2 separate regions of the Homo sapiens genome follow, and region 1 is linked to region 2. Evidence: fine-mapped expression QTL. A gene starts in region 2. The other region holds a variant in brackets. All regions are shown on one strand. Distances are from middle to middle.

The links.
Region 1: its variant is fine-mapped to the expression of NMUR1 in whole blood (TOPMed, PIP 0.93).

Annotation. Positions count from the first base shown.
Region 1 is chr2:231,405,781-231,421,489 of GRCh38, forward strand. It overlaps LOC124907997 (a long non-coding RNA gene), which reads left to right and starts at 6,516. Exons shown (of 2, transcript XR_007088118.1): 1 at 6,516-7,145; 2 at 8,196-8,684. RefSeq lists enhancers at 4,628-5,233, 5,234-5,838, 7,933-8,693, 8,694-9,453, 12,660-13,161 and 1 more and a silencer at 6,383-6,722. The variant G/A (reference allele first, on the strand shown) is at 9,196.
Region 2 is chr2:231,521,852-231,537,560 of GRCh38, forward strand. NMUR1 (neuromedin U receptor 1) reads right to left here and starts at 8,594. Exons shown (of 3, transcript NM_006056.5): 1 at 8,508-8,594; 2 at 6,272-7,166; 3 at 1,336-3,574. The coding sequence starts at 8,510. The coding sequence ends at 3,192. It overlaps LOC105376787 (a long non-coding RNA gene), which reads left to right and starts at 10,319. Exons shown (of 4, transcript XR_001739928.2): 1 at 10,319-10,988; 2 at 12,641-12,763. RefSeq lists enhancers at 4,395-4,896, 6,002-6,529, 6,530-7,056, 9,546-10,280, 13,823-14,324 and a silencer at 8,422-8,851.

The DNA.
Region 1 (15,709 bases), 120 kb before region 2:
CTCCCTATGGTATTATTTAAAATTAGATGTACCCCTTCTAAAAGAACAGGATATTCCCCTTATGAAATATTATAGGCCCCCTCCCATATTGCGGGGACTTCCAGGCACTCCCCGAGAGTTAGGTGAAATTGAGTTACAGCGACAGCTACAGGCTTTAGGAAAAATTACACAAACAATCTCAGCCTGGGTAAATGAGAGATGCCCTGTTAGCTTATTCTCCCCAGTTCACCCTTTCTCCCCAAGGACTGGAACGTAGCCTCTTTGTGCCCACGGTGGAAAGGACCCCAGACTGTCATCCTGACCACTCCCACCGCTGTGAAGGTAGAAGGAGTCCCAGCCTGGATCCACCACAGCCGTGTAAAACCTGCAGTGCCTGAAACCTCAGAGGTAAGACCAAGCCCAGAGGACCCTTGCAGAGTGACCCTGAAGAAAACGACAAGCCCTGCTCCAGTCACGCCCGGAAGCTGACTGGTCCACGCACGGCCAAAGCATGAGGAAGCTCATCGTGGGATTCATTTTTCTTACATTTTGGACTTACACAGTAAGGGCTTCAACTGACCTTACTCAAAGTGGGGACTGTTCCCAGTGTATTCACCAGGTCACTGACGTAGGACAGCAAATTAAAACAATCTTTCTGTTCTATAGTTATTATGAATGTATGGGCACGTTAAAAGAAACTTGATTGTATAATGCAACTCAGTACAAGGTATGTAGCCCGGGAAATGACCAACCTGATGTGTGTTATAACCCATCTGAGCCCCCTGTAACCACTGTTTTTGACAGAAGATTAAGAACTGGCCTTTTCCCAGGTGATACAAGTAAAATAATAACTAGAACAGAAGAAAAAGGAATCCCCAAACAAGTAACTTTAAGATTTGATGCTTATGCAGCCATTAATAGTAACAAGCTAGGAACAGGATGTGGTTCTCTTAACTGGGAAAGGAGCTACAGAGTAGAAAATAAATATGTTTGTCATGAGTCAGGGGTTTGTGAAAATTGTGCCTTTTGGCCATGTGTTATTTGGGCTACTTGGAAAAAGAACAAAAAGGACCTGGTTCATCTTCAGAAGGGGGACGCCAACCCCTCCTGTGCTGCCGGTCACTGTAACCCACTAGAACTAATAATTACCAATCCCCTAGATCCCCGTTGGAAAAAGGGAGAACGTGTAACCCTGGGGATCGATGGGACAGGGATAAACCCCCAAGTTGCCATTTTAGTTAGAGGGGAGGTCCACAAGCACTCTCCCAAACCAGTGTTTCAAACCTTTTATGAGGAGCTGAATCTGCCAGCACCAGAACTTCCGAAAAAGACAAAAAATTTGTTTCTCCAATTAGCAGAAAATGTAGCTCTTTCCCTTAATGTTACTTCCTGTTATGTATGCAGGGGAACCACTATCGGAGACCGATGGCCTTGGGAAGCCCGAGAGTTGGTGCCTACTGATCCAGCTCCTGATATAATTCCAGTTCAGAAGGCCCAAGCTAGCAACTTCTGGGTCCTAAAATCCTAATTATTGGACAATACTGTATAGCTAGAGAAGGGAAAGACTTTATCGTCCCTGTAGAAAAGCTTAATTGTATAGGACAGAAGTTGTACAACAGCACAACAAAGACAATTACTTGGTGGGGCCTAAACCACACTGAAAAGAACCCATTTAGTAAATTTTCTAAATTAAAAACTGCCTGGGCTCATCCAGAATCTCATCAGGACTGGACGGCTCCCACCGGACTATACCGGATATGTGGGCACACAGCCTACATTCAGTTACCTAATAAATGGGCAGGCAGTTGTGTTATTGGCACTATTAAGCTGTCCTTTTTCTTATTACCCATAAAAACGGGTGAGCTCCTAGGTTTCCGTGTCTATACCTCCCGAGAAAAGAGAGGCATAGTTATAGGAAACTGGAAAGATAATGAGTGGCCCCCTGAAAGGATCATACAATATTATGGGCCTGCCACATGGGTACAAGACGGCTCATGGGGATACCAAACCCCCATCTACATGCTCAATCAGATCATACGGTTGCAGACCGTCTTAGAAATAATTACTAATGAAACTGGCAGAGCTTTGACTGTTTTAGCTCGGCAGGAAACCCAAATGAGGAATGCTATCTATCAGAATAGACTGGCCTTGGACTACTTGCTGGCAGCTGAAGGAGGAGTTTGTGGAAAATTTAACTTAACCAATTGCTGCCTACAAATAGATGATCAAGGACAGGTGATTGAAAACATAGTCAGGGACATGACAAAGTTGGCACACACGCCTATACAGGTTTGGCACAAGTTTGATCCTGAGTCTTTATTTGGAAAATGGTTTCCAGCTATAGGAGGATTTAAAACCCTCATTGTAGGTGTATTGCTAGTAATAAGAACTTGCTTGCTGCTCCCCTGTGTATTACCCTTGCTTTTTCAAATGATAAAAGGTATTGTTGCTACTTTGGTTCATCAGAAAACTTCAGCACACGTGAATTATATGAATCACTATCGCTCTATCTCGCAAAGAGACTCAAAAAGTGAGGATGAGAGTGAGAACTCCCACTAAAAAGTGAAAATTCTCAAAGGGGGGAAATAGGGAATGAGACCACCACTTCTCCTGTTGTCCTTCCCAGCTTCTCCCCAACCTCCCCTTTTCCCTAGTTTATAAGACGGGAGAAAAGGGAGAAAGCAAAAAGCTGGAAAGAAACAGAAGTAAGATAAATAGCTAGACGACCTTGGCGCCACCACCTGGCCCTGGTGGTTAGAATGATAATAATAATATTAACCCCTGACCAAAACGACTGGTGTTATCCGTAAATTCCAGACATTGTGTGAGAAAGCACCGTAAAACTTTTTGTCCTGTTAGCTGATGTGTGTAGCCCCCAGTCACGTTCCTCACGCTTACTTGATCTATTATGACCCTTTCACGTGGACCCCTTAGAGTTGTAAGCTCTTAAAAGGGCTAGGAGTTTCTTTCTCGGGGAGCTCGGCTCTTAAGACGCGAGTCTGCTGACGCTCCCGGCCGAATAAAAACCTCTTCCTTCTTTAATCTGGTGTCTGAGGAGTTTTGTCTGCGACTCATCCTGCTACACTGCTATTTCTCCCTCCTCAGCACAGGTCTTCCCACAGTTCTCTCTTGGCCAGCCGGCTGCATAATTTGCAGAGCCCAGTGCAAAATGAAATTACAGGACCCTGGTTTTAAAAAGGTATTAAGAATTTTAAAGGTCAGGCTCACGCCTGTAATCCCAACACTTTGGGAGGCTGAGGTGGGAGGATGGCTTGAGCCCAGGAATTTGGGACCAGCCTGGGCAACATAGAGAGACCCCTGTCTCTACAAAAAAAAAAATTTTTTTTTTTTGAGACAGAGGTCTCATTCTGTCGCCCAGGCTGGAGTGCAGTGGTGCGATCTCAGCTCACTGCAAGCTCTGCTTCCCAGGTTCGCGCCATTCTGCTGCCTCAGCCTCCCGAGTAGCTGGGACTACAGGCACCCACCACCACGCCTGGCTAATTTTTTTCTTAAAAAATTTTAAAATTACCTCAGAGTGGTGGCACGCACCTGTCTGGGGCCAAGGTTGCCAGAGATTGCCTCGGGATGCTGAGGTGGGAGGATCCCTTGAGCCCAGGAGGTCGAGGCTGCAGTGAGCTGTGATCGCATCACTGCACTCCAGCCTGGGTGACAGAGCGAGACACTGTCTCAAAAAAAAAAAAAAAAAAAAAAAGAATTTAAGATTGCCACAGCAGAGCATTGAGCATTAAACCAAGTGCTGGGAGCTTCTGAGGGAGGCCTGCGACTGTGATGCCAGCCCTATTTGCCCCTCCTCATCCTCAGAAGCCAGGTCCTGCTCTGGGCTGCAGAGAGGGGATTGGGGCTCACAGTTCAGCATGGGAGAGGGCAGCCCAGGGACACCCAGAAAATGGAGGTGTACAGGCCACAGGACCCAGGCCCAGGTGGAGGCCCAGAGACGGTTATGGGTTCAGCTGCCCCTGAAGGATGAGGCAGAGGGAACCACATATACCAAGGGCTGCTGGGAGCAGGGTGGATGCATTCTGAAGCGGAAAGGAGCTCCTCTCGGGGCTGGACCTGGGGTGAGAGAAGGGGTGGGAGGCTGGGAGGCAGGCAGGGCAGTTTCTCAGGTCTTCTAGGTTCAGGAGTACTTTAACTTTATCCTGAGCACAAAGGGACAAAGAGCAGGGGTTCACGGCAGCCTGAGGGAGCAGAGGGCAGTTTTGAGGCACCTCCACCCCTCCCTCTGGCGCACTTTGGCCCATTCTGGCCAGCTCCAGTGGGGCCCCACTCTGGAAAATCAGGCATTTAGTTTTGCTTCCTGGTAATGATAACAACTGACATTTTATGGAGCACATTTCATATGCCAGGCACCCTGGTAAACATTTAACGTGTAGTCAATATGACTTTAACTCAGGGTACAAATATGGTTACTTTTTAATTTTTCTCATTGATTGCTCAAATCCCTCATGTACCATTATTGGCAGAAAAATCCAATATCAGCCTCTTGGAACCCACTCTCAAATTGTCCAAGAACCTCAGGGATTTCCCTCCTCCAAAGAGAGGGTTCTCTGGAAAGTCTGAGCAGTCATCTCCAGTTGTTCCCTCTCTCTCCACACAGGGGCGCTGTGGAACAGCGGGCCTGCACAGTCCTGTGGCTTCTGAGGCTTGGCTACCTTCACTGCACAGGCTGCGGTGGGGCCTATGCTTCCAAAACAAAGTTACCCTTCTCTCAGTCACCCTCACAAGCTCAACGACCTTTCCCCAGAGAGCAGCAGCATGCCAGGGGTGCTGGGTCCTGTGGCCCCCCAGTCAGCTACACAGTCTGTGGGGGAATCCCACAGACTCAGGTTCTCTCTGGCCTGGTGAAGCAACTTTTTAGACAGTAGATTTTAGTTGGTCCCAGGGTCTTAACTCTTTCCTCCTCAAAGGCCCTGGCTTTGCAAAATGGTTCCCTCCTCCCCGGCAACTGGCTGTGCATTCCAAGGGGCCTTGAAAAGGGGTAGCCTTTGTCAGTCCTCAAAAAGTCCAGTTCCACTCTTCCCCCAGGGTAATGGGTGCCTACTCAGCCACATTTACATAACTAAAGGAGACCACTCAAAGAATCCTACTCTTAACAAAGAAAGCTGTTCCTAGGTGACTTATTCTGTGCACCTAAACTGAGAAGGAGCAGGGGGAAGCTTCTGGAATCCTGTTATACACCATGTTCAAAGTAAGAAATGGAGGGCTCTAAGAGAAGGATCCCACGGCTATTGTGTGACAGGCACGATTTGAACTCTGTGCCCTGCACACCTAACCCCCATACTCTACTGTCTCCCAAGAGCCTCCAGCCTCCCATCCTTTTTCCTTAGCAGTAACTTAGTCACAAATATCTGTGTTTGTTGTTTCTGTCTAAAAGGAGGAAAATGTTATGTCCAATGAGCGATTGAAACTGTGATGGTTGGGGGAGCCCAGCGTTATTAGGGCTGTAAGAAATAAATGTTTCCAGAGAGTTATTTAAGCTATTGTGAAGAAAAACTTTTCTGTTCCAGTGAAACACTATACATTATCTAAAGCACAGCCAGACCTGTCTGCTTCCAGCCCCATTCACGGTCTTTGAGCTATTTTGCACCTCTTTTTAAGTTGCAAGTACTGAGGGCTTTGCAAACTGTCTTGTCAGGTGAAGCTTCCATTGACTTCTCTTCCACCCCCCACCAACACCCCCACGGTGGAAAAACCAGTTTGCCGCTGTTTGCAATTCAATTCCTTCACTCCATATAAATTTGTGCTTTTTGATGTCTCCTTTGAACCAGATATAACATCTACCTTGTCCTTTTTATGAGTAAAATAAATCTTTAATACATGCTCATTTTTTATTTCTGAACAAGGGTCATGAATCTACCTTTTTCTGAAAATTGTCTTTTACCAATTGCCTTTATGTGAAAATGAACACAGATACATTATCGAACAGAATGCAATTTTTGCTTATATTTCTAAAACAAAACTTGAATCTTGGAATACATTGTATACTCACTGAAGACCCTTCCAAAGTGAGCCAAAGCTTAGAGCTCAATCCTTTTAGAGGGTTTTGCCCCCCGGGAATTTGAGAAAATATCTAGTCCAGATCGCAACCAGACAGAATGAATCCGAATGAGTGAGTGGGTGGGGCGCGAGCCCAGGCATTTTTTATCGCTCCCAGGTGACTCAAGTTGGGAACTACCGGCCTGGGCTGGGATTGACTGACCCTGCCGTGCAGCCTGTGACCTATCACAAATCACCTTGGCTTTGTTTTTCCTCGGTGCGGCCGAATCCCACAGGAATGCGTGGAATCCCTGCCCTCACCCATGGCGAAGCTGCCCCCCTCGGGCTCCGCCTGCCCCCCGCGGCTCCTCGTCGCCGGGCAGCCAGGAGCTGCTGGGTGGGCGCGGGCGTCCCGGGGCGCGGTGCGACCCAGAGCCCCTCGCGGAACCCGCCTGGGCTGTGCAGGGGACAACGCGTTCGGCTGTCGAGGGTGGGGGAGCCCTGTGTGTGTGGTGGGGGTGGCATCCGATGGATCCCGGGGGCCTGCGGAGGAGGTGGGCATCTCGGCGCCACCCGGTGCGCGCCCCGAGCGAGGGCATCTCCCCTCGAGACCAGCCCGCGGAGCTGCGCGAGGCGTGGGGTAAGGCGGCGTAGACCTCCCAGTGCCGGCTGCAGGGCCGCGGGTCGGGGCGGGGCCCCGCGAGGAGCAAGGGGCTGGCCGGGCTGGAGGGCTGGGTGAGTCCCCGCCCTGGCAATCCCAGAAGAGGGCAGGGAGCGCCCCCAACTGACCGCCGGGGGCATCGTGACGCTGAGGTGGATGGGAGACTGCACGATTTGAGCAGGTTGTGTGAAATCTGGAACTCCATTACTTGTACCCCAAGGCATCTTTTTTATGCGGATTTAAGCTGGAAAGCGCCACACCAAGCTGTTAACAGGAACTGCTTCCTGGCACTGAGATTCCAGGGGCTGCTCGTTCCTTTCTCTGGCTCATCTGTGTAAGGAAGACTTTCCTCCGTGAGCCTTTCCACCAAGCTCAGGCCTGAGGCTTAGGAGAAATGTGCGAGATCCCGACAGCCTCGGAGGGAGTGAGGGGGCTTCGAGACCCTCAGGGCCACCTTAGGGGCCTCTACCAGGGAAGGAGAAATGATCTTGTTTCACCGGCCAGGGAGGTGAGTGCAGCCCCTTCAGGACCTCAAAAATCCCTACTGGGGGCCCACCCTCAGAGGCCTGGTGAGGTCAGAACTAAGGCCTTGGATAGCAGGATACAGTTTGCTGTTCTAATTGTTTAGTATCTGATCTCATAGACAAATGACACAATAATCATTTTTTCATAAAATCTTAATATATAAAGCCAACGATGGTAAGGATATGTTTGGTTTCAAGTGACATGAGATTCTGCTCAGTTGGGCTTGGTGGCTCGCACCTGTAACCCCAGCACTTTAAGAGGCCTAGATGGGCAGATCGCTTGAGCTCAGGAGTTTGAGACCAGCCTGGCAACATGGTGAAACACCACCTCTACAAAAAAGTACAAAAATCAGCCAGGCATGGTGGCATGAGCACCTGTAGTCCCAGCCACTGAGGGTTGCGGAGGGGAGCTGAGATGGGAGGATCCTGGGAGGTTGAGGTTACAGTGCCCATGCACTCCAGCCTGGGTGACAGAATGAGACCCTGTCTCAAAAAAAATAATAATAATAAAAAGAAGGAAAGAAAAGGAAAAAAGAAAGTCTGCTCGAACTGGTTGCGACCAGCAAGGAGATGTGTGGGCTCACAGAAGTGAAAGTACAGGGATGCCTGCCTCAGGGGCTGATGCAGGACAGAAATATAAAACAGCCACTCCCCATACTGGAGCTGCCTAGCTGGAAAGGGGCAGGTTGAGATTGCTCTCAGGTGGCCTGACTGCAAAAGCTGCATGTTAGCCACCACTCAGACACGTGCTAGGGTCTGGAGGATGGAGGCAAGTCTGGAAACAGCTGCCTGTCCACCATGACTGCCTGCAATTTGTTAAGACCACCTGCAATTTGCTAAGCGCTGATGGGGAGGCCAGGCTCAGCTCAGATAGCTCAGCTCCCGCAGACCTAGTCGAATGTTTCTTGCTAGATTTTATGTATTTTTGTAACCAAATGCTCCCATTTTTTCTAAGAAAAACGGAATGAATTACTTTTTTTTTAATTATTATTTTCTATTCTCTCCCCTTTCCCTCCTTCCCGTTTCCTACTCAGCCCTTCAGAAATGCAAATGTAACCGTTCACCTCCCCCTAGACATTCCCTTCAGGGTAATTCCCTTCAGGGCAATTTCTTCAACGGCTCCAAGACAGATCTTTTCCTTGAGAGCTGACAGTCGATTTGCTGACAGTTGATTTCCAGACTGAAGCGTACCTGCCACGGAACTTTTACCTCCATGGGGTGACCTTAGAACTTCTGCTCTGCAAACTGGAAGTGACCTTCATCCTCCAGGAGGGTATGTCGAAAGCATTCCCGCTTGGCCACTTTTACAAGTTATTTCTGCCTGGGAAGGCACCAACTCAATTATCCAGTAGATAAGATACGGGGCAACAGGGGAACGCCTGCCTTGCATACTTGCTCACCCCCGACCTTATAAAAGTGTCCATGTTACTGCTCCAAAGGTGAAGCAGCACATGTAAAGGCAGGACGCGTTGTGTCCCTTCCCCAAGCTACCTTTGGAATACATTCACTTTTCTTACACCAGACCTCGCGCTTGTTCATTGGACTCTGCATGCGATGAGCAACTAACCTGCTTTTCAGTTATGCTTTGGAGCCATGTTGTTTAGCACTTAGAAAATAGAGGTGGGTCTGGGCGCGGTGGCTCATGCCTATAATCGCAGCATTTTGGGAGGCCGAGGTGGGTGGACCACTTGAGGTCAGGAATTCAAGACCAACCTGGCCAACTTGGTGAAACCCTGTCTCTACTAAAAATAGAAAAAATGAGCCCAGCATGGTGGCACATCCCTGTAATCCCAGTTACTCGGGAGGCTGAGGCATGAGAATTGCTTGAATCCGGGAGGTAGAGGTTGCAGTGAGCCGGCATCACGCCACTGCACTCCAGCCTGGGCCACAGAGTGAGACTCCATCTCAAAAACAAAAAAAAAAAAAAAAAAAGAAAAAGAAAATAGAGGGTGTCTGATAAAAATGTACCTTCTCTAGTGTGCAGCACAGTAAATCCAGCACCCCAGAGATGTCCTGCCTGGCTCCCTGGAACCC[G/A]TCTGTGCACATGATGAGATGTCACCTCTGTAATTAGCTTAGGTTACATGGCACAATTAGCCTTAAAATAGGGAAATATTCTGGGTGAGCCTCATCTAATCCCATGAGACCTTAAAAGCAGAGAGCTTTCTCCCACTGGTGGCAGAAGGAGAAGTCAGACTAGAAGCAGAATTCACATGCCATTGTTGACCTGAAGACTGAGGGACAAGGTGGCAAGGAATGATAGCAAATTCTAGAAGCTAACAGCAGCCCCTGGCTGGCAGCCAGCAAGGAAATGGGAACTTCATACTGAATTCTGCCAGTAATAGAAATGAGCTTGGAAGAGGACCCTAAATTCCAGGGGAGGGATGCAGCTGGACAGAGAACCTAGCCATGCTGTACTGGTCTCCTGACCTGTGGGACTGTGGCAAAATAAATGGATGTTGTGTTAAAAAGAAAAAACCTAAACACTCAGAAAAAAAGAAAAATGTTGGCAGTACAAAGAGATATTGCCAGAAACACAAATATAGTGAGTCTTTAACATACTATTTAACAACCTAGAAGAGATTTAACTTACCAAAATCAGAGACATCAGGCCAGACAGGGTGGCTCACGCCTGTAATCCCAGCACTTTGGGAAGCCAAGTGGGTGGATCACTTAAGGCCAGGAGTTCAAGACAAACCTGACCAACGTGGTGAAACCCCATCTCTACTGAAAATACAAAAGTTATCCGGGTGTGGTGGCATGCACCTGTAATCCCAGCTCCTTGGGAGGCTAAGGCAGAAGAATCTCTTGAACCCGGGAGGCAGAGGTTGCAGTGAGCCTAGATTCCACCACTGCACTCCAGCCTGGCCTGGACAACAGAGCAAGACTCTCTCAAAAAAAATAAAAATGAAAATAAACCAAAGACATCAAAGACCCAAACAATACCATGAGTAGTTTGAATCAAAGATCTGTATCAAATTCTGTACCACACACAGCTTGTATCTTCTTTTTGCATATGAAACCTTTACCATGTATGTGTATTAGAAGGAAAGACAACATCAACTATCCCCCAAGGCAGAAATTAAACAGGCCAAACTCTATGTCCACAATATACGGTAAATCAGAAATTACCCACAAAATTAAACCAAACAAGAACAATGACAAAAATCCTAGCCTGTTTCTTAAATAACTGTTGAGTCAAAGAGAAAGTAAAAACTATAATGGTTCATTGTTTTGAAATCGGGAAGACCACATAATTATATTTAAGGGAATAATGTCAGTTTACCTCATTTTGACTTCAAGGGGTGTTACGTGTCAGGCCTTGGGCTTAAGGCTGTAGCTGCTGAACATTGCCCAATTTAACAACTATAAATGCATTCATTATTGTAAAAATAAAAATAAAAACAAGTGAACTAATGTTTCAACTCAACATTGCACGAGAAGAATTTTATTTTTATTTATTTATTTTTTTGAAACAGGGTCTCACTCCATTGCCCAGGCTGGAGTGCAGTGGCACCATCTTGGCTCACTGCAACCTCTGCCTTCCAGGCTGAAGAGCTCCTCCCACCTCAGCCTCCCCAGTGGCTGGGACTATAGGCACGCCCTCCAGGCCTAGCTAATTTTTATATTTTCGGTAGAGATAGGGTTTTGCGATGTTGCCCAGGCTGGTCTCAGTCTCCTGAGCTCAATTCATCTGTCCACCTCAGCCTCCCAAAGTGCTGAGACTACAGGCACGAGCCAGCACGCTGGGCCAGAAAAGAACTTTATTTATTTATTTTTTTTTGAGACGGAGTCTTGCTCTGTCACCCAAGCTGGAGTGCAGTGGTGTGATCTTGGCTCACTGCAACGTCCTCCGCCTCCTGGGTTCAAGTGATTCCCCTGTCTCAGCCTCCTGAGTAGCTGGGATTACAGGCACCTGCCACCACACCCAGCTAATTTTTGTATTTTTAGTAGAGACAGGGTTTCGCCATGTTGGCCGGGCTGGTCTTGAACTCCTGACCTCAGGTGATCTGCCCGCCTCGGACTCCCAAAGTGCTGGGATTACAGGTGTGAGCCACCACGACCAGCCCAGAAAAGAACTTTAAAGCAGAGTAAAACAAAACCAGAAAAAAGAAATAATAAAGACATAAGAGAGATGAGTCAAATTTAATGAATTTGAAAGGAGTAGATAAATTGTCGGTTATTTTTTTAAAAAAGCATTAAAATAGCTAAACCTATGCCAAATTTAATGAAAGACAAGTGTAATTAGCAAGTTAATTAAATGCAGTTTAAAGTGTAAAAGTATAAGAATTATAATTCATATATGAATAGATTTTTAATTTTTTATTCTTAAAATTAATTTTTTTTTTTTACAGAGTCCTGCTCTGTCGAACCAGGCTGGAGGGCAGTGGAGCGATCATAGCACACTGTAGCCTTGACCTCCTGGGCTCAAGCGATCCTCTTGCCTCAGCCTCCTGGGTAGCTAGGACTACAGGCATGTGGTACCACACCCTGCCATGAGTAGATTTTAAATCTTGTTGAAAAGTATGTGGCCTGAGCAACATGGAAAAACCCCATCTCTACTAAAAATACAAATATTGGCCAGGCATTGTAGCATGCACCTGTAGTCTCAGCTACCTGGGAGGCTGAGGCAGGAGAATTGCTTAAACCCGGGAGGCAGAGGTTGCAGTGAGCCGAGATTGTGCCACTGTACTCCAGCCTTGGTGACATAGTGAGATTCTGTCTCAAAAAAAAAAGAAAAGTATGGTTCAAATAAACAAAAGGAATAGAGTCAAAAAGAAAGGAAGCCAGGTGTGGCACACACCTGTACTCCCATCTATTAGGGAGGCTAAGGTAGGAGGCTCACTTGAGCCCAGGAATTCAAAGCTGCAGTGAGCTGTGACCATCGCACTGCACTCCAGCCTGTGCGACAGAGCCAGACCCTGTCTCTAAAAATAAAGAAAACCCATATGCTCTCATAATCCAGGAACAATTGGAAAGAGTTATCAGTCACCTTCCCAGAGTCTCTGGAGACCATTTGGGCAGTAAGTTCTTTCAGGCAGTAAGGTCTTTCAAACTCCCAAGAAACAACTAGTTCTAGCCTATGAGCCCATTTTTGCCATGGCAAAAAATGACAAGCTCTCCAATTCATTGTATGAAATTAATATAACACTGATCCCAAAGCCAGCAAATAGAGCACAGTTAAATTACCCCTGAATCCCACAAACTGCATTGTAGCCAGAAGCCGCCTTGCTATCCTGGTCTCATAGCTTTCAGGTATTTGGCTCCTCATTTGTTCCTAAATCCTACTGACAGGGACATGAGGCGGGAAAAAAAAAAAAAAAAAGAATCTGCCAAAGATGGCCGGACTTCAGGGGAAGATTACCTACCCCACATCCCCCTTAACAGCTCCCCTTCCCACTGAAAGCCTTTTTTTTTTTTTTTTTTTTTTTTTTGAGAAGGAGTTTCACTCTGTCGCCCAGGCTGGAGTGCAGTGACACATGCCCTCCAGGCCCAGCTAATTTTTGTATTTTCGGCTCACTGCAACCTCTGCCTCCCAGGTTCAAGCAATTCTCCTGCCTCAGCCTCCCGAGTAGCGGGGACTACAGGCACGCGCCACCACACCCAGCTAATTTTTGTATTTTTAGTGGAGATGGGGTTTCACCATGTTGGCCAGGATGGTCTCCATCTCTTGACCTCGTGATCCGCCCGCCTCAGCCTCCCAACGTGCTGGGATTACAGGTGTGAGCCACGGTGCCCAAACCGAGCCATTTTCATTGGCAATAAAATCTCCCACATTTACTATCCTTCAATTCGTTCGTGTGACCTCATTTTTCCTGGATGCCGGACAAGAGCTTAGGAGCCACAAGTGTGGATACGAAAGGCTGTCACACTGGCCCTTCGCCCTCGCTAGCAGAGGGCAGCCATGGGCCCACTGAGAGCTGTTAACACTTAAGCCGTCCGTGGACAGCAGAGCTAAAAGAGCACTCTAACATGGCCTCCGGGGCCCCGGGAGTCGCAGGCACCCTGCCTGGACGCTGTTGTGGGGCCTGAACGAAGTTCACTGCTGCCGGCGCCCAAAAGCGCTCGCTCCAGCTCCTGCACCTGCTCAACTGTGTGCTCCCTTTCACGAGGGTCGGAATGCGGTGGATCTGAGAGAGTGGAGTCTGATCCCGCCCGCACTGAAACAGCTGGCTGGTTCCAGCACTCCTGCGCTCCAGTTCCCGCCTCGTTTGCTGTGTGCTCCCTCCCACCAGCAGTTGAGAGCAGTGGGCTAAGTAAACTAGGCACCCCTGTCCAAAGTCCTGAGAAGGGCTCAAGGAACTATCCTGCTTCACTATTGATCAGTGGTCTCCCTGTCAGGGGCAGATCCGGCCTTCTCTTCTCAAATTATCCTGGGTGATAATACCCATTGGGTTTGTCTCCTGGGTGATTCCCTCCACGGCTGAACCTCACCCACTACCTTCTCGTCAGTGTCATTGACTCTGCACACAGGTTACTGTTGCTCACCCACCACTGGTGCCTCTGACCCTTCTAGGACCATCTAGGTTCCCCCTGAGTAACTCAGGGGCATTGCTGACCAGCTGTGGACCAGAAGGCTCCCTTAGGGCACGTGCTGCATGGTAGGGCTAACTGTGGCTGTCCCCCAAGACCTGTGGGGTCAGGCCCTTCCCTCTGATGTTGGGGTTGGGGACCTTGCAGCGGAGTCAGAGGGAGAAGCTTCGTGTTCCCTCCACCCCAGGATCCTCCACCGAAGTAAGTAATTTGACACAGAGGAAACCAGATGCACAAAAATTAAAAGGATAAACCGTAATTCAGCTAAAATACCCAAGGGTTGAAATTGCCAAAGGACGTGCAAAATTCAAGGAAAAAAAGATACGAAAGTGGGCCGGGCGCGGTGGCTCACACCTGTAATCCCAGCACTTTGGGAGGCCGAGGCGGGTGGATCACGAGGTCAGGAGATCGAGACCATCCTGGCTAACATGGTGAAACCACGTCTCTACTAAAAAAAATACAAAAAAAAATTAGCTGGGCGCGGTCCGGGCGCCTGTAGTCCCAGCTACTCGGGAGACTGAGGCAGGAGAATGGCGTGAACCCGGGATGCGGAGCTTGCAGTGAGCCGAGATCGCGCCAGTGCACTCCAGCCTGGGCGACAGAGAGAGACTCTGTCTCAAAAAAAAAAAAAAAAAAAAAGATACAGAAGTGAAATAATAAAGGTAAAGGAATGAGATAGCCAGGAAAAGATAAGCCAACTTAAACAGAAAAGCTAGGAGGAGCCAGGTAACTCAGAATGGTAGGTGTGCTAGATTGAACAATGTGTGTCTAAAGTCACACACAAACAAAACAATTTCGACCTATGTGTTTTAAAATTAAAAAACAAGAAGTAGCTGGGCACAATGGCTCACACCTGTAATCCCAACACTTTGGGAGGCCCAGGTGGGAGGATTGTTTGAACCTGGGAGTTCAAGACCAGCCTGGGAGACCCATCTCTACAAAAAATTTAAAAGATGAGCCCTGCGTGGTGGTGCACACCTGTGGTTCCAGCTATCAGGGAAGCTGAGGCAGGAGGATCGCTTGAGCCCAGGAAGTCGAGGCTGTAGTGAGCCATGTTTGCACCACTACACTCCAGCCTGGATGACAGAGCAAGACCCTGTCTCAAAAAGGAAAAAAGAGAAACCAAAAGGACCTCCATAAAACAAGAAGTAGCAGGCAGTTGGGTGCAGTGGCTCACCCTGTAATCCCAGCACTTTGGGAAGCTCCCTTGAGCCCAGGAGTTCCAGACAAGCCTGGGCAACATCGTGAGACTCCATCTCTACAAAAAATTCAAAAATCAGCCAACGCGGTGGTGCACCCTTGTAGCCCTAGCTACTCAGCAGGTTGAGGCAGAAGGATCGCTTGAGCCCAGGAGTTCAAGGTTACAGTGAGCTATGATCGTGCCACTACACTCCAGCCTGAGCAATAGAGCAAGACCTTGTCTCAAAAAAAAAAAAAAAAAAAAAAAGTAGCAGACAAAGAGCATGAGCTCATAAAGGGTCATCTGGACTGAAATCTGGGGGTGAAGGAGAGGGCAGGGCCCCAGCACCCCAGCAGCCTGGACACACTCCTGCGCCAGGTGCAGCCCCCTTTTCAGGGGATGAATGGGGGACTTGTCTTCCTCTGCATTCCTTGACCAGCCTGAGTGCCAGCCTCACCTCACTGGCGCTGGAGGAAAAGCAGTGGCCTACGGAGACCCCAGTCCCAGGCTGGCTCCTGTTCTTGCTCCAGACAGAACTTTTGAAGCCCTTGGTGTTGCTAAAAGTGCTTGTTTCTTGGCCCCGCTCCTCTCACTCTGGGGACTAGGAGGGCTGAGGCTGTTATCCAGGTTGACAGGGACTGCTTTGTCCCTCGGTCAGGGCTCTGTCCTCACAACCTTTCCGGGCCTTCTCAGAGTCTGTGGGCCACCCATTTGGCCACCCACACTGCTGAGGGTCACCGGGCAGAAAATGCGGAGTTTCTGCATTCCATTTGAAGCTGCTTGGTGTTCCGTCTGAACAAACCATGGTGTATTTAACCAGCCTCTGTGGATGGACGG
Region 2 (15,709 bases):
GGGTGAGTTCAGATCTGCTATTCCCGTTTTCCATGGGAACCAGTGACTGACAGGACCTGTTGCTGACGTGCTGCGGAGACATACATGGTGCTCACAAAGGGGCACCCTTCTTTTTTTTTCTCTTTTTTTTTTTTTTTTTTTTTTGAGACAGGGCCTCACTCCAATTTGCCCAGGCTGGAGTACAGTAGCACAATTTTGGCTTACTGCAGCCTCGACCTCCTGGGCTCAGGTGATTTTCCCACCTCAGCCTTCCAAGTAGCTGGGACCACAGGTGTATGCCACCACACCTGGCTACTTTTTGTGTGTGTGTATTGTAGAGACGGGGGTTTCACCATGTTGCCTAGACTGGTCTTGAACTCCTGAGCTCAGGTGATCCACCTGCCTTGGCTTCCCGAAGAGCTGGGATTACAGGCATGAGCCACCATGCCCGGCCCAGAGGGCACCCTTCTAACAACCCCACTGCCCGTCTGCTTGCTGCCTGCACATGGAGGCCCTTCATAATGCTGTCCAGGGTGCCTCGAGCATGAGGTGCCTCTGACTGTGGTTGAAGCAGGCCTCTGGGAGTCCAGAGCTGGTCTTGAGAAACAACTTCAGGGTCCAGCCTGCAGTTTGGGATCCGGCATCTCCCCCTCCCACCCCAAGGCTACTTCCCTGGGAGCTCAGGGGCAGCACTCAGGTGCTCACGGCTCTGCACAGCTTTTCACAGGCTCCTTTCTCTGCAGAATCTCCCTGTCCCTGCAGTCACTCCCCTCCCCTATCCCCCACCCTCCCCCAAGGCCCACTTCTTAGGAGCTGTCCCCACTCAGGGCTTGACTGTGCATTCAAGTCAGGGCAGGCTCAGGGCCCCCCACTGAGGAAACCACCTCCGCCAACCAGCCTCCCCTCAGCTCCCTCATCCACTCTCTGGCCTCCACGAGGTCCCCACTTCTCCCATTTTCTCCCATTGTCCTCAGTGTCCCCACTCCCCACCCCCAGCCTCTGTTGCTCTCTGTCCGGGAGCCCCTGTGCTTCTCCCAGAACTTGTCCACTGGGCAGGACTGACAGGCAGGACGGCTCTTCCTCCCCCGAGCCAGGGACTTAGTAGGCAGGGGGCATCCAGGCCTTCCTGGCCAGCATCTGGGAATTCACCCAGATGGTTTATGCAAGTCCTACTCCCCCAGGGCTGGCCAAGGCCCATCAGAGTGGATCCCATGAGTCAAATGAGTGCAAGCGTGAGCTTGGATAGAACATCCACTGGACAAAAGGCCAGATACAAAATTGTCTATGTGTATTGTGTATATAAAATAAAACCACCATATGACACATCACTAGGAGGAAACATGCCACTGTTACTGCTTCAGAGTAAAGTTATGGGTGGTTTTAATTTTTTCTTTCCTTTAGATTTAATCCTCTTTTTATAAAAATTGTGGTAAAATACACATAACATAAAATGTACCATCTTAACCATTTCAGTGTATAGTTCAGTATTGTTATGTATATTCATATTGTTGCACAACTGATCTCCAGAACTTTTTCATTTTGCAAAACTGAAACTCTTCACCCATTAAAGAACTCCTCACTTGCCCTTCCCCCATTCCCTGGCAAGAGAGGTTTTACATTTTTAAAATTGTTTTCATTTTTGCTTATTTGCACTTTCCAAATTTTCTATCATGAGCATTTATTATTTTTATAATTGAATTTTTAAAACTAAACATCTGCAACCCTGTACCACGTCCTCCACTTTCTCGGCAGGGAGCATGAGCTATGGGCATGAGCTAGGAAGCTGTCTGCAGGGAGAACCCAGACAGACCGACCGAAGGTCATCCTCCAGCTCCCAGCCTTGGAAGCCAGGGCTTCCTCTCAGGAGGACAAGACTCAGGGACTGCAGCAGGACAAGTTTCCTCCATGAACTGAGTCCTGGCTGAGCAATGACTTGGCCTGCAGGGATTCAGAATGGGGCTCAGTTTCAAGGACTACTTGTCCCTGTCCCTCTTCTCACTGCATTGAGTTCGGCAGAACCCTCCACAGGGTCACTCCTTGCCCTTGGTTGGCCATGTCTCTTGCCCTCAGAGACCCTCTGGCCAGCCAAGTCCAATGCTCTGCTCACTGGACTCCCGAGCCAGCCTGCACGTATGTGAGGACGGAGGTGGGCTGTGGTGGTGGGGTCTGCTTGCATGCTGGCTTTGCCCCACTTGTGCTGGGAGAGGCTGGGGAGGGCATGGGGAGGTCAGGGAGGAAGTGGGGCTTGGGGTTGATAAAGATGCAGATAATAACTTCCGCCCTTTCAGTCTGAGGGTATTGTTGGTTTTATTATAAGCAGTGGCTTACACACACACAGAAAGAAAACCATAGCTAAAGTGCCAAAGCATGACACTGTGGAAAGCCAGCGCCTCTTTCATTTTTCAGGCAAGGAACCAAGGCCTAGAAAGGTGGACTGATTGGCCGGGTGTGGTGGCTCATGCCTGTAATCCGAGGACTTTGGGAGGCCGAGGTCGGCGGATCACCTGAGGTCAAGAGTTTGAGACCAGCCTGGCCAACATGGTGAAACCCCGTCTCTACTAAAAATTAAAAAAAATTAGCTGGGCATGCTGGGGCTCACCTGTAGTCCCAGCTACTCGGGAGGCTGAGGCAGGAGAATCGCTTGAACCCCGGAGGCGGAGGTTGCAGTGAGCCAAAATCGCGCCACTGCACTCTAGCCTGGGCGACAGAGTGAGACTCTGTCTCAGAAAAAAAGAAAGGTAGACTGATATGCTTGATGGTGCATGACAAGGTGGTGACAGCAGGGCTGAGATTGGAACCAGGTCCCCTGGATCCCTGGGCCCCTGCCAGAACCTGAACAGGAACTGGGAAGGACAGTGAGGACCCAGTGGGACCGTTTCAGAAACTGGCAGTGGTGGCAGGGAGTCCCCAGAGGGAGGACTGCTGAGCCCCAGCTAACTGTGATATTTCTGCAGGGTAAGGATTTGAACTGGGGGAGTGGCAGTGGACAGATAAGAAGCACAAGGTGTGGCGTCTGGTCAGTGTGAGTCCTCAGCAGTCAGGGATCCCTCCTCCTGCTGTTTCCCTCTGAGGGAAACTGAGGTGCTGGTCAGAATTTCTAGGCTGAACTAGGGACAGTACGTGAAGGCATCCCTGCAGAGGAAGGCAGATGTGTCTCCCCAGCTCCAGGTGACCCTCTGGCCCCTCCAGGTGAAGCCACTTTAAGGCTCCACTCAGGATGGATCGGTCTCTTGCTGCGCCTCTGGGCCATCGTTCCCAGCCAGGGGGTGGACCCAGCTGCCCAGGGAGCCCACATCACACAGGGTGCTGCCTGTGGTCATCCTGCTGAGGCTGTGGGAGCTGTGGCGGGGTCTGAGGCGATGGCAGCAGGCCCCGAGGCACAGGGCCTCCTGGAAGGTCTCTCGGAAGCGGCTGGACATGAGGCTATAGAGCACGGGGTTGGCCGCCGAGCCCAGGTAGAAGAAGATGCCGGAGATGACGTGCACGTGCTGGAAGGCCAGGTGCAGGCCATCTGTCCACTGTGACACGACGCTCCACATGACGCGGTCGGCGTGGAACGGGGCCCAGCAGATGCCAAACACCACGACCAGGACAACTGCAGGGACAGAGAAGGGAGGCCGAGTGCCCGCCCGAGGCCCCTCAGCTGCCTTCCCGGGCTTCAGTTTGGGTCACCCATTTTCACATCCTCTCCTATCCCACAGGCCACCCTCACCTATCACCCAGGTGGAAGTTTCTGGAAATTTGCCTGTTCTGGCCATGCCTCTCTCAGAGAGGCTGCCCTCACCATGGTCACTGACTGTGGGCAATGGGGCATATCCCTGCCTCTGACCACAGCCAACTGGACCAGGTGTGGACACCTAAGCCCAGCCGGCCCAATCAGATTCTCTCACCCTGGAATATGAAATTGGGTGACACTTAGCTGTGGCTGTTGAGCTTCTGGGGTGATACAAGCTGTGGGGCTAGGGCCACTCTGGATGCCCACTTGGGGGCCATGCTTGCTGATGCATAAGTACAGAAAAGAAGAATGGGGCACGTGCTCAGAGAGCGGCAGACCGGAGGTCATGGGGCCAGGGAGAGTGAGACACACACACGCATGCACACACACACACATGCATGCACACACACAGACACACACATGCACACACACACACACTGCCTGCCTTGGCCCCGGCCTTTTCAGCTCCAGCCCCCAGCTCCCCAAGGCCCATCTGAATGTCTTGCCCTGCACTAACCTGCCCCCCATCTTACTTGCCAGGCCCTTGCCCACCCCCTCCCTAACAAAAGGTAGGAGAGTTTGGCAAACCTTCACTTTCTCCCCAAATCCCTCCTGCCTTGTTCTTACCCAACTATGCCCTTCCCTGGGTCTCTGCCACAGGGTCAGCTGTGATTTTTGTTCCTTGTTTCTTGGGTTTGCTGCTGCAACTCACTAGCTTTCCTGGGCAGTGTCTTCCCCATCATACCCTAGCATGGTTTTCCTCATAATCCCAGATTTCAAAAAGGACGTTGCTCACAACCTCCCTGGCCCCTGGCCTGGTGCACAGAGGGCCAGCGGAAAGTGGACAAGGGAGGGAGGGAGGGAAGAGAGAAGGCCAGCAAGCAGGAAGCCCACCTTCCAGGGGTGAGCCACCCCAGCTAAGCACCTACTGCAGACTCTGCCCACCCATGTTTTCAGGGAGGGGACGGGGTAGTAGGCAGGAGGCAGGGCGGCAGTGGGCAGCTGGTCCTGAGCACAGGCTTCACCGTGCAGAGCTGGGAGGCATGCACATAGCTCTGGGGTCAGCCTCGTTTCAGGAGCTGCACAAGAGACTGAGCTCTGGGACGGTGTCTGAGGGGTGAGAGGAGCGAGTCACTCTGGAGATGGGGCGGCCCCCAGTTAGCTGGCTCTGTCCAAAGTCTCAGTGGCCCTCTGCTGACCTGGCTCACCCCACTGGCCTGATTCAGGCTCTGCTGAGGTGGGGCTGAGCTGGGATGCAGGTAGGTGGATGGGGCGGATCTTTGATCGGCTTAGTATCAGTTTGTCTTGCTTCCCCAGGGCCACAGCTTTTGAAAAAGAGCCAGGTCCAGGCCACAGAGATCCAGAGCCTCATCCCAGTACCTTAGCCTGCCCTAATCCGCAGGCCTCTGGCCTGATCCCCTGTGCCTTGAGCCCGGCCTTCACAGACACGCCTCGGGATGGGGCTGTTTAGACAAATGGTCTCTCCTGCGGTTCCCAGGGAACCGCAGACATGGCATGGGGGAAATTCAGCACCTGGCCTCTCCAACACCCTCCTCCCCTTCTCTGGGGGACTTTGCTCCCCCCAGATCTCACTGTGTAGTTCCACTGGGGGCTGTGCACCTCGGCATCCTGCCACTCTGGCTCAGGAGGTGGGGCATGACCTAGGCCACGCCCATCAGAATCCTTCTTGGGATTTTTCACTCATCTCTAAGGAAAGACAGCAGTTCCTCAGGAAAGAAGATGGCGTGCCGGTGGCCATGCCTCACAGGCTGCTGCCGAGAAGAACAAGGCCAAGACACGTTAATAACCAAAGAGAGCCGGGTGCAATGGCTTATGCCTGTAATCCCAGCACTTTGGGAGGCTGAGGTGGGAGGATCACTTGAGACCAGGAGTTCAAGATCCGCTCTGGCAACATAGTGAGACCCCGTCTCTACAAAAATGAAAAAATTAGCTGGGCATGGTGGCACCTGCCTGTAGCCCCAGCTACTTAGGAGGCTGAGTGAGGTAGGAGGATCGCTTGAGCCTGGGAGGTTGAGGCTGCAGTGAGCCGTGGTCACACCACAGCCTGAGTGACAGAGCAAGACCCTGTCTCAAAAAAAAAAAAAAAAAAAAAAAGAAGAGGAGAGACCTGAGACCTGGAGGGTCCAGATCCCATTTTCTGTCATCCTGGAGCCCAACCACATGCCCTGCCCTTTCTGTGTTTTGGTTCCAGAGCCAGGGCCCCAAGTTTAGCAGGGTCCTGGGCTTGGTTTAATGCTCTGTTGTTGCTGTCTTGACATTCTTATTCATTTTTGAAAAAGGGACCCTGAATTTTCATGTTGCACTGGACTCCACAAATTACACAATCTTACCGTTAGCCATTAACAGGTATTTTTGGTGTAAGATTCTAGTAGGGTAATCTAAAAGAGTACACAGGAGTGCAACTCAGACACACACACACACACACACACACACGAGACTAGAGGAGTTCCTCGTCCCCCATAAACCCAGATACTCAGCCCCTTCTCCCAGGCCCCAGGAGCCCCAAACTCATACCCAGTGCCTGGCTCAGCCCCTCTTCCCAGCCGTGACACTTACACAGCATCTTGGTCACTTGTCTCCGGCCCCGATCGTGCTGCTGGAGCCTGCAGGTGTATCTGGACCTGGCTGCTGCAGAGCCCCTGCCCTTGGCCTCCTGCATGAGCAGCAGCCTCTCCCGCCGCAGTCGCAGCCCAATGAGCAGGTAGAGCACGCTCATGATGGCCATGGGCAGGCAGAAGAAGAGCAGCGCGGTGGTCTGCACTACCATGTTGTAGAGGGCCCGTGGGCGGACCAGCATGCAAACAGCTGAGTCTGGCACTGGGCCCCGGCAGGGCACGTGCAGCTGCCGGATGCCGTGCAGGCTGGTGTTGGGCAGGGAGCAGAGCATGGCAAGACCCCAGACGGCCCCAAGCACTCGGCGCACATGGGCCCGCGTCACCATGGACCTGGCCTGGAGTGGGTGCACCACGGCCACATAGCGTTCCACGCTCAGGGCAGTGACGTTGAGCACTGAGGCCAGGCAGACCATCTCAAACAGTAGCGTGCGGAAATAGCAGCCACCAACGCCCAGCAGGAAGGGGTAGTTGTGCCACATCTCATAGAGCTCCAGGGGCAGGCCCACCAGCAGCACCAGCAGGTCCGACACGGCCAGGCTGAAGAGGTAGTAGTTGGTAGGCGTGCGCATGGCCTTGTGGCGCAGGATGACCAGACAGGTCAGCCCATTGCCCACAGCGCCCACCACGAAGATCAGCAGGTATGTGGCACAGATGGGCATGAACAGCTCTGTCTGCTGGGGCCCCAGGTACTTGAGTCTCAGTGCCTCGTCAGTCAGGTTCAAGTCCTCAGGGTCAAAGTGCCCCCTGGCCGCACTGCCATTGCAAGCCATGGGGTTCCTTGCACCCCCTGGGTACAGGTCTCCAGGGAGGACAGAGCAATTGAGGCAGAGAGGAGTCTGTGGAACAGAGGGGAGAGATGCCCAGAAAGATCATTCAGGGAATGCTGGCTCTGTCCTCACTCATCAAGCCAAAGGTGACATTAGCGCTATGATGACCATTATTTTAGGCACCACTGAGAAAGAAAAAACTCTTCCATCCACAAGTCAGAGATGTAAAAATAAGCTTGGTGCAGTGGCTCACACCTGTAATCCCAACACTTTGGTCGAGGCAGGCGGATCACTTGAGATCAGGAGTTCAAGACCAGCCTGGCCAATATGGTGAAACCCCGTCTCTACTAACAATACAAAAAGTAGCCGGGCGTGGTAGCACACGCCTGTAATTCCAGCTACTTGGGAGGCTGAGGCGGGAGAATTGTTTGAACCCAGGAGACAGAGGTTGCAGTGAGCGGAGATTGTGCCACCGGACTCCAGCCTGGGCAACAGAGAAAGACCTTGTCTCAAAAAAACAAAAAGCAAACAACGAAAAAGTAAAAATCTACATTTAAAAAAAAAAAAACACGTGGGGTTTTGATTTTAAATTTCATGATCTATTGGAACCTTTGAGTAAATGACAGATCTTGGGTGTCTCCTCTTTCAAGCAATGATGCTAGATGAGGCACTCGTTTGGGCATCTGTAAAATGGGCACAATGCCTGGTATTGCAGGGTCTTCAAGAGCAAGCGCTCAGGAAGCAACTGCCTGGATTCGAATCCAGCCTCCCCAGTTCCAGGCTGTGTGACCTTTAGCGAGGTAACCTCTCTGAGGCTGTTTCCCTATTAGGAGGATCCAGGGAGTTTAATCCATTAAAGACATTAACACAGGGCCTGCCTGGCATACGGAAGGGCACGGGGATCACCCCCTTGCTCTGGGGACCCAGTCACTATGAGAGTCAAGTGAGGGAGTGTCAAGGCTACACACTACAAATGCTTCATCCACAAGTTGATTCTTTTTTCTGTTTTCTGTCACCTGAACTGTTCAGTCTCCATATTTGACGCCCTTGGCACTGCCAGTTCTGGGGTTCCCTCTCCTCTATTGAGCCCCACACCCTTCCTCCCGCCCGCCCTCACCCCCGCTGCACAGCAGCGCGGGAGCCTCGGGAACCAGTTGGGAACGCGCAGGCGCCAGCCCGGGTTCAAGGGAGGCGCCCTGGTCCTCGAGGAAGGGTCGCAAGCCCGCAGCCCCCCGGCGCCCCTGGCCGGAAGACACAAATGACCCGAGAAGTTGCGAGGCTCCCCGGTGGCGGGGACGGGGGGCACCCCGACGGAGCCCTCGGACCCTTCCCGCCCTAGGACGACCCTGCCCGCACCGAGCCCCGGCCCAGCTGCCGCGCCCTAGCCCACGCCGGCGCCTGCGCACCTACCATGCGGCCCGCGGCCCGCGAGACCCCGGCTTCCACCCTCCGAGCGACGGACACAGACGCGGCGCGGGAGCCAGTGGACTGACTGACAGCGGCCCCAGCCCGCGCCCCGACGCCCCGCCTGTCCGGCCGGGAACGCCGCCAGGGGGCAGTGCAGTCCCCGCAGCCCGGGCGGCGCCCCCTCCCGCACTGGCGGAGGACGCGGCCGTTGGAGGCGACACCTCCACAAGCAGCGTGGAGGCGACACCTCCACAAGCAGCGTTATCTGACGGAACCCTCACAACAACCCGTTTTACAGATGAGAAAACTGAGCCTCAGAGAGCCGCAGAGGAGGAGCCCGAGAGACCTGGGGCTCACATGTGATTCCCGCCCTCCAGCGTGCTGAGTTTAGCTTAACGCCGTCACGGTGTCCCTGCGGCCTCCAGCTCCTCCTGCCCCCCATTCAGACCCACCTCCAAGGACAGGGACGGCCCACCAGCCCCTTGAAGTCGACATGCCCCGGTGCGGTTCATCCTCCCAGGCTCCAGGCCTCTTCTTCTGTCCCAAGGCCCATGATTGCAGCCTCCGCAGCCCCTCTCACCCGCTGCTCCCTTCGGGGCCTCCAGTCCCTGAGTCCAGGCGCTCGGCCCTGCAGGACTGGGCAAGAGCCCCCTATTCTCCCTCCAGTCCATCCTCCCACAGCCACCAACGACCATCACCCCCTCGAAACCCTTCCTTGGGGCCCCCCCACTGCCTTCTGAAAAAGAGCACACCAAAGTCTAGCCTGGGGGTGGACCTCCCCACTCCTCACCTGCCTCCCTGGGCCACCCTCTCCTCACCATTGTCCTCAGCCCCAAATACTGTCCCCCTTATCCGTTCAAATGTTCTTCTGCCCCCATCACTGTACCAAGGGTGGGGGTATAGACAAGGATGGAGGGAATTTAGGGAAGGGTTAAGAATGCCCAGCCACAGCCTCCTGCTCCCCCACACTGCCCACATGCAAATCCCAGTGCCTCACCTGCTCCCACTCCCTAGTCCTGCAATCAGCTCCTTAGCTGGAAGCTGTTTCATCAGAAACTTCTAGGGACCCTAGAAATGACGGATCACACAGAGTAAAATGCTGGTTCCGGGGCCTTTGCCCAGAGTTTTGTCTCCTTAGCCTGGGCAAGGCCCAGAAATCCTCATGTTTGACAAACGCCCTCTGGAGAGCCCCATGCCCCAGAATCACACTGAGGAGCACCAGGAGAGGTTACAAAGCCACAGGACCCCGAGAGGCCACCGTGAGCTCAGAAGCTCTGTGTGCCTCAGTTCCCCTTCCTGTAGAATGGGCTAACCACCATCGCCACTATTGTGAAGGTGACATGAGACACTGAGCGTCAAGATTCAGCACAGGGGCTGGCACATGGCCAACACTCAAGAAATGTGGGGTGGGATTGTCACCATTTAGTGGCAACTGGAGGCTCCTCCTTCCCCCCGCTTTCCTGCACCCTCCTCCTCCCCACTGCCCCCCAATTCCATAAGTCACTGTCTGGGCTTGGGGATGGGAGTTAGGCCCTCAAGGAGCCTGCACCAGGCCGGCCTTCCCAGGAACTCCACATGTAAACAGAGTCCCAGGCAGGGGACGGTTGTGGGAAGTGCAGGGGCACGTGGTCCTCAGGGCCTTGGGAGAAAGGATTCTGTGGTGCCCTGGGAATTAACTACTCAGCCCCTGATGAGCTAGTCCAGGAGAAATCCTCAGTAACAGGGCTGCCAGCACAACAGACGGGCAAGGAGGGATGACATCACTCAGCATCAGAGACCACTGTGGCATCACAGGCTGCTCTTAGCAAGTGAGGAGCATTTGGACCCCAGCCCTTCACTGGAACACACACACACACGCACATGCATGTACACACACATACACACACATGCATGCACACATCACTCTGCACATACCACACCACACACACGCGCACACACATACCACTCTGCACAGACTCTGAGCAGTCCGAAAGTCCCCGTGGACCCTTTGGTTCACACAGCCCTGGAGGGGATGGGGAAGGACCCACCTAGCCTTGCAGAGGCAGAATGACTCTTGCCAGTCAGGAATTCCTACAGCGGGTTGCATCATTCACATAACATTAGCAGCCATCAAAGGCTAAAGAGCAGCCCCCAAAAAGGAGAGGCTCAGTGGCCACAATGGCTGTGGCCCTCACTTCCGCACTGTGCAGAGGGCCCTAGGGGCCCTGGCCTCCGGGCCTGAGCTCAAGGCCACCACGGTAGTGTCCCATCAGAAACGTATGACATCCTGCTGCTCCTGCTCCGTCCTGAGGTGGCACCCCCCAGTTTTCTGGGTGTACACATCCATCTAAGCTTGGCTGGTGGGCGTCTGCCCAGATGAGGGGGCCAAGGACCCAACTCTGCACAACAGCAAATGCATTCAGGGAGGGCCACTGGGACCTCCAGGAGCTGCTGAGATACCACCCAAGTCCCAGGCGTGTGCAGGACTCATGGGGCCAGAGGCATGTGAGTAGCTCCGTATCCCCTCCTCATCCTGCTGAGTCCCTGAGAGCCAAGAGGGGCTGCTTAAACTCAGGCCAGGCTTAAACCAGAACCTTCTCAGCCTTGGGCTGACCCGCAGCTCCTGGCAAGCCCATGGTTCCCCCAGAAACGCCCCAACCCCACCCCACTTACTGCCTACAGAGGGGAGGCAGGGAGGATGAGATGAGCTTGGGGACACTGTAGCTCTGGACAGGAGGGAGGCACTGTTCTGCAGCCTGGGCAATGGGGATCACCCAGGACCCCCATCACTAGGCTTCATTGGGCAAACATGGAGAACAAGAACAGTAAATATCCGAAGCAAGGGAGAGTCGCTGTACCCATCTGGGCACCTCCCAAGGTCAGAGAGCTCCCTACCCAGCTCTGCTCTGTGGGGTCCCAGCCTGGCCATGGCCAGGAGCTAGAGGAGGATGGTCTGGGCCCCTCAGGTGATGGGGTTCCGAACTTGGGGGCTGGGATTGCACCTCAGGGAGCCACGTGGCTTTTGTGTGATCATGCACCCATGCTCCCTGAGCCACCAGCCCTGGTCTGCTCACAGAAACTGGTGGGAGAGATGGTCAAGCCAGGCAGGGAACATGGTGAGTACAGGCTTTGGAGGCTGTGAGGCCAGAGTGAGACTCCGCATTCTGCCAGCGTGGCCTCAGATAAGCCACTTTGCGCTTCAGGCCTCAGCTTCTTTGCCTGTAAAACACAAACATAGCCCCTGTCCTTCAGGGATGCCATGAGGATTAAGAGTGATAATGTGGGTTTAAGCACTCAGTGCAGGGTTGAAGAGCCTGGAATTCTCTGGAAGATACCAGAAAGCTGCTGGGAGGCAGGGCTGGGGTGGGAGCTGTCCTTAGTAGGGTTTGGAAGGGCAAGGTCCCCAGCACCCCGGGAAGGAGAGCTGAGTCCCAGTGGAAAGGAGCACACAGGCTTGCAGGGAGCCCAGCCACAGTGCAGGCAGTCGGGGCCCTGCAGCCCGGTGGGGACCAGCAGCGGAGGAGACCTCCGGGGAGCATCGCCCCTGCCTCTCCTGCTCCTAGAGGGGACCACTGGGGACTGTCTAGCCCCTTGCCCCCTGAGGGCTGTGAGGCCTGTTCCTGAGCTCTCCCAGAGACAGCCAGCTCACAGGCTTCAGGCAGGGTGCTGGGCACAGGGAGCCGGTCACCTCCTCACAGGGGCTCAGCCTGTGTACCAGGCCCCAACCTCCGCTTGTGGCCAAAGGGAGGACATGTTCAAGTCACACAGTGAGAAGGCCAGAAAAAGCCTGTGTCTCTCATGTCTAGGGCCTGTGTGTCCCTCATGCCACCCTGGACTGGGGCCAGATCTTATTGTGTGCCCACAGGGTGCTCCTGGCACCTACTCCTCCAAGCAATAAAGGCCACCCTCAAGTCCACCAGCCTTCCCAGCTAACACACCACACTTGGGTGTGTTACAGAAGCTCCTCTTGGGGTCTTCCCATTTATAAATTCTCATAGTCATGATCAGAGGGAGGTTTCAGAACAAAAGTTTCTCCCCCTGCAACAGGTGACCAGCATCAGGACTCAGGAACTTGTTAGTCTGCAGCAGTTTGCTGTGTTTGATTTAGTAGTTTTTTTTCTTTTCCCTTTTAACTTTTTTTTTTTTTTCTGAGACAGAATTTCACTCTTGTTGCCCAGGCTGGAGTGCAATGGTGTGTGTGATCTCAGCTCACTGCAACCTCCACCTCCCCGGTTCAAGCAATTCTCCTGCCTCAACCTCCCAAGTAGCTGCTATTACAGGTGCGTGACACCACACTAGGCTAATTAGTAGAGACATGGTTTCACTATGTTGGTCAGGCTGGTTTTGAACTCCTGACCTCAGGCGATGCATCCACCTTGGCCTCCCAAAGTGCTGGGATTACAGGTGTGAGCCACCGCGCCCAGCCCTGACCTTTTTAACCTTTTATATTAGCATTATTTCATACCTACAGGAAAGTTGAAAGAATAATACAAAGGATTCCTATATTTTTGGGGGACTATGAGAGTCAGTTGCAGACATAATGCTTCTTTACCACTAAATGCTTCTGTTCTGGTTGAGTTTAGAAGTGTTCTATGAATACCATTAGTTCCCCCTGTCCAATAGGCAGTAGCCTACCAGGGAGTAGGTGTTAAGGAGGCAGTCCGCCTGGCAGGAGTAATATTTTATCACCAACATTGTTTAGAATCACTGGCACATCGTGCCACTTTTTAAAAAGCAGGCCACTTTTAGTCAGTTCAACAACTCTTTTCCAAACCTTCTCCATTATTGCCTGTTCCCAAGGCAGGCTGCTGCCACAGCCAATAGATACTAAAGCAGTAAATATTCAGAGTGCGAGGAAGGTCAGCATTACAAAGGGAATAACATTAAATTGGAGGAAATATATCAAAGAACCGGAAAGTGGTGATGAAATGACAGTGGTGCATGCATACGGAATGCGTCTTTCTAGGGTTGGGGTGTTCTTAGGAACAAAGACTGAATCAGGAGGTAAGTACACAGTGCTGGGCCTATCAACAGCAACTGCTGGACACAGGGAAAGGGGACCAAAGGCAGGTGCACTGAGGGTGTGTGATGGAGGAGCGGGCACCAGCATGGGCACAGTTGGCCTAAAGCTAAGAGAAGGCCAGGTATGTGAAGACTGAAAGACAGGGTGCCAGAAGATCCTCCTGTTGAATTGTTTTTTTGTTTGTTTGTTTGTTTTTGTTTGTTTTTTTGAGACAGGGTCTCACTCTGTCACCCAGGCTGGTGCAGTGGTGCGATCTCGGCTCACTGCAGCCTCAACCTGCCTGGCTCAATCGATCCTCCCACCTCAGCCCCTCAAGTAGCTGGAACTACAGGCATGCACCACCATGCCTGGCTAATTTTTGTATTTCTTGTAGAGACGGGGTTACACTATGTTGTCTAGGCTGGTCTTGAACTCCCGGCCTTAAGTGATCCACCCACCTCGGTCTCCCAAAGTGTTGGGATTACAGGTGTAAGCTACTGCAACAGGTAAGGATCTTGGTTTTCAAAAATCAAAACTGGCTCCAGCTGATTTAGGCCGGATTTCCTGAAAAACATCCGGCAGCTCACAGAATCAACAAGAAGGCTGGAGGGGCAGGGAGACGGTGGGGCTGCAGCTAGAAGGGTTGGCACTGTGACCCGGCATCCCGTGGACACTGGCCCCAGGCTGGGACCATGTCCCCGCCTTTTGAAGCACTTGCCCTGGACCCCCTGCCCCGGGGTGAGAGACAGGATGCTACAAAGTCAGGTCCTGCTGCTGCACTCTCGCTGCATGGGTGGGGTGAGCATGGGTCTTGCAGCCTTCTGGAGGGGAGGAGGGGCAGATTCCCCACCCAGTGGGTCATCCACAGCCCCTGGCAGACAGCCCAGGTGCCAAGCAGCCAGAACAAACCACAGATGACCCTGCCACTCAGGGATTCAAGCCCTTGTCAAAGGCACCCAGCCTCAGAGAGGGTGGCAGACGGCTAGTGTGAGCACAATGGAGTCACAAGGCATTGTGAGACCCAGGGTTGGGGGACAGCTTGTCCCAGCAGGCTTATAAGGTTGGCAAAACCATTTTGCAAAAAGATGCCCAGGAGAACTTTAGCATCTGTTTATGACTTTTTTTTTTTTTAAGACAGGGTCTTGCTTGTCACCCAGGCGCTGGAGTGCAGTGGTGCGATCACGGCTCACTGCAGCTCTGACTTCCCAAGCTCAGCTGATCCTCCCACCTCAGCCTCCTGCGTAGCTGAGACTACAGGCACACACCACCATGTCCACTAATGTTTCTATTTTTTTCGTAGAGATGAGGTTTCACCATGTTGCCCAGACTGGTCTCGAACTCCTGTGCTCAAGGGATCTACCCACCTCGGCCTCCCAAAATGCTGGGATTACATGCGGGAGCCATCGTGCTTGGCCTGTGTATGATTCTTGTATGCATAAATTATTACTATGATGGTCTGCCAAATGGTGATTCTAAACCCCATCATCCCTTCATTTCCGAGCTGACTGTGACTAGAAGGAGAAACTTCCTCTTATCACTTTTATTTATATCCATGTGGACCCATGATTTCTTATTCTATTCAAAGGATACTAATTCATTATCATTATTTGTGTTGATGTTCAGATTTGTCCCAGATTTGACCAGTGGGAGCCCCTTCAAGTTGGATCGTATATCCTTTTGATGTGTCATTATGAATATTTTGTATTTTCTGGCACAATACAATGTTCTAGGCTCATCTCCTATTTCTCTGGGCTATCCTGGAATAAGCCATTTTCCAAGGAGCTCTGGCTCCTTTAGTGGAGAATGATGGAAACCAAGATCAGCCGGGCACAGTGACTCACGCCCGTAATCACGCCTGTAATCACGCCTGTAATCCCAGCACTTTGGGAGGCCGAGGCGGGCAGATTGCTTGAGCCCAGGAGTTCAAGACCAGCATGGGCAACTTGGTGAAACCCCATCTCTACCAAAAATACGAAAACTAGCCAGGTGTGGTGGTGCATGCCTGTAGCCCAAGCTACCTGGGAGTCTAAGATGGAAGGATCACCCAAGCCCAGGAAGTCAAGGCTGTAGTGAACTATGCTTGTACCACTGCACACAAGTGTAGGGGACAGAGCAAGACCCTGTCTCAAAAAATAAATAAATAAATAAATAAATAAAGGACAGGCATGGTGGCTCACACCTGTAATCCCAGCACTTTGGGAGGCCGAGGTAGGTGGATCACCTG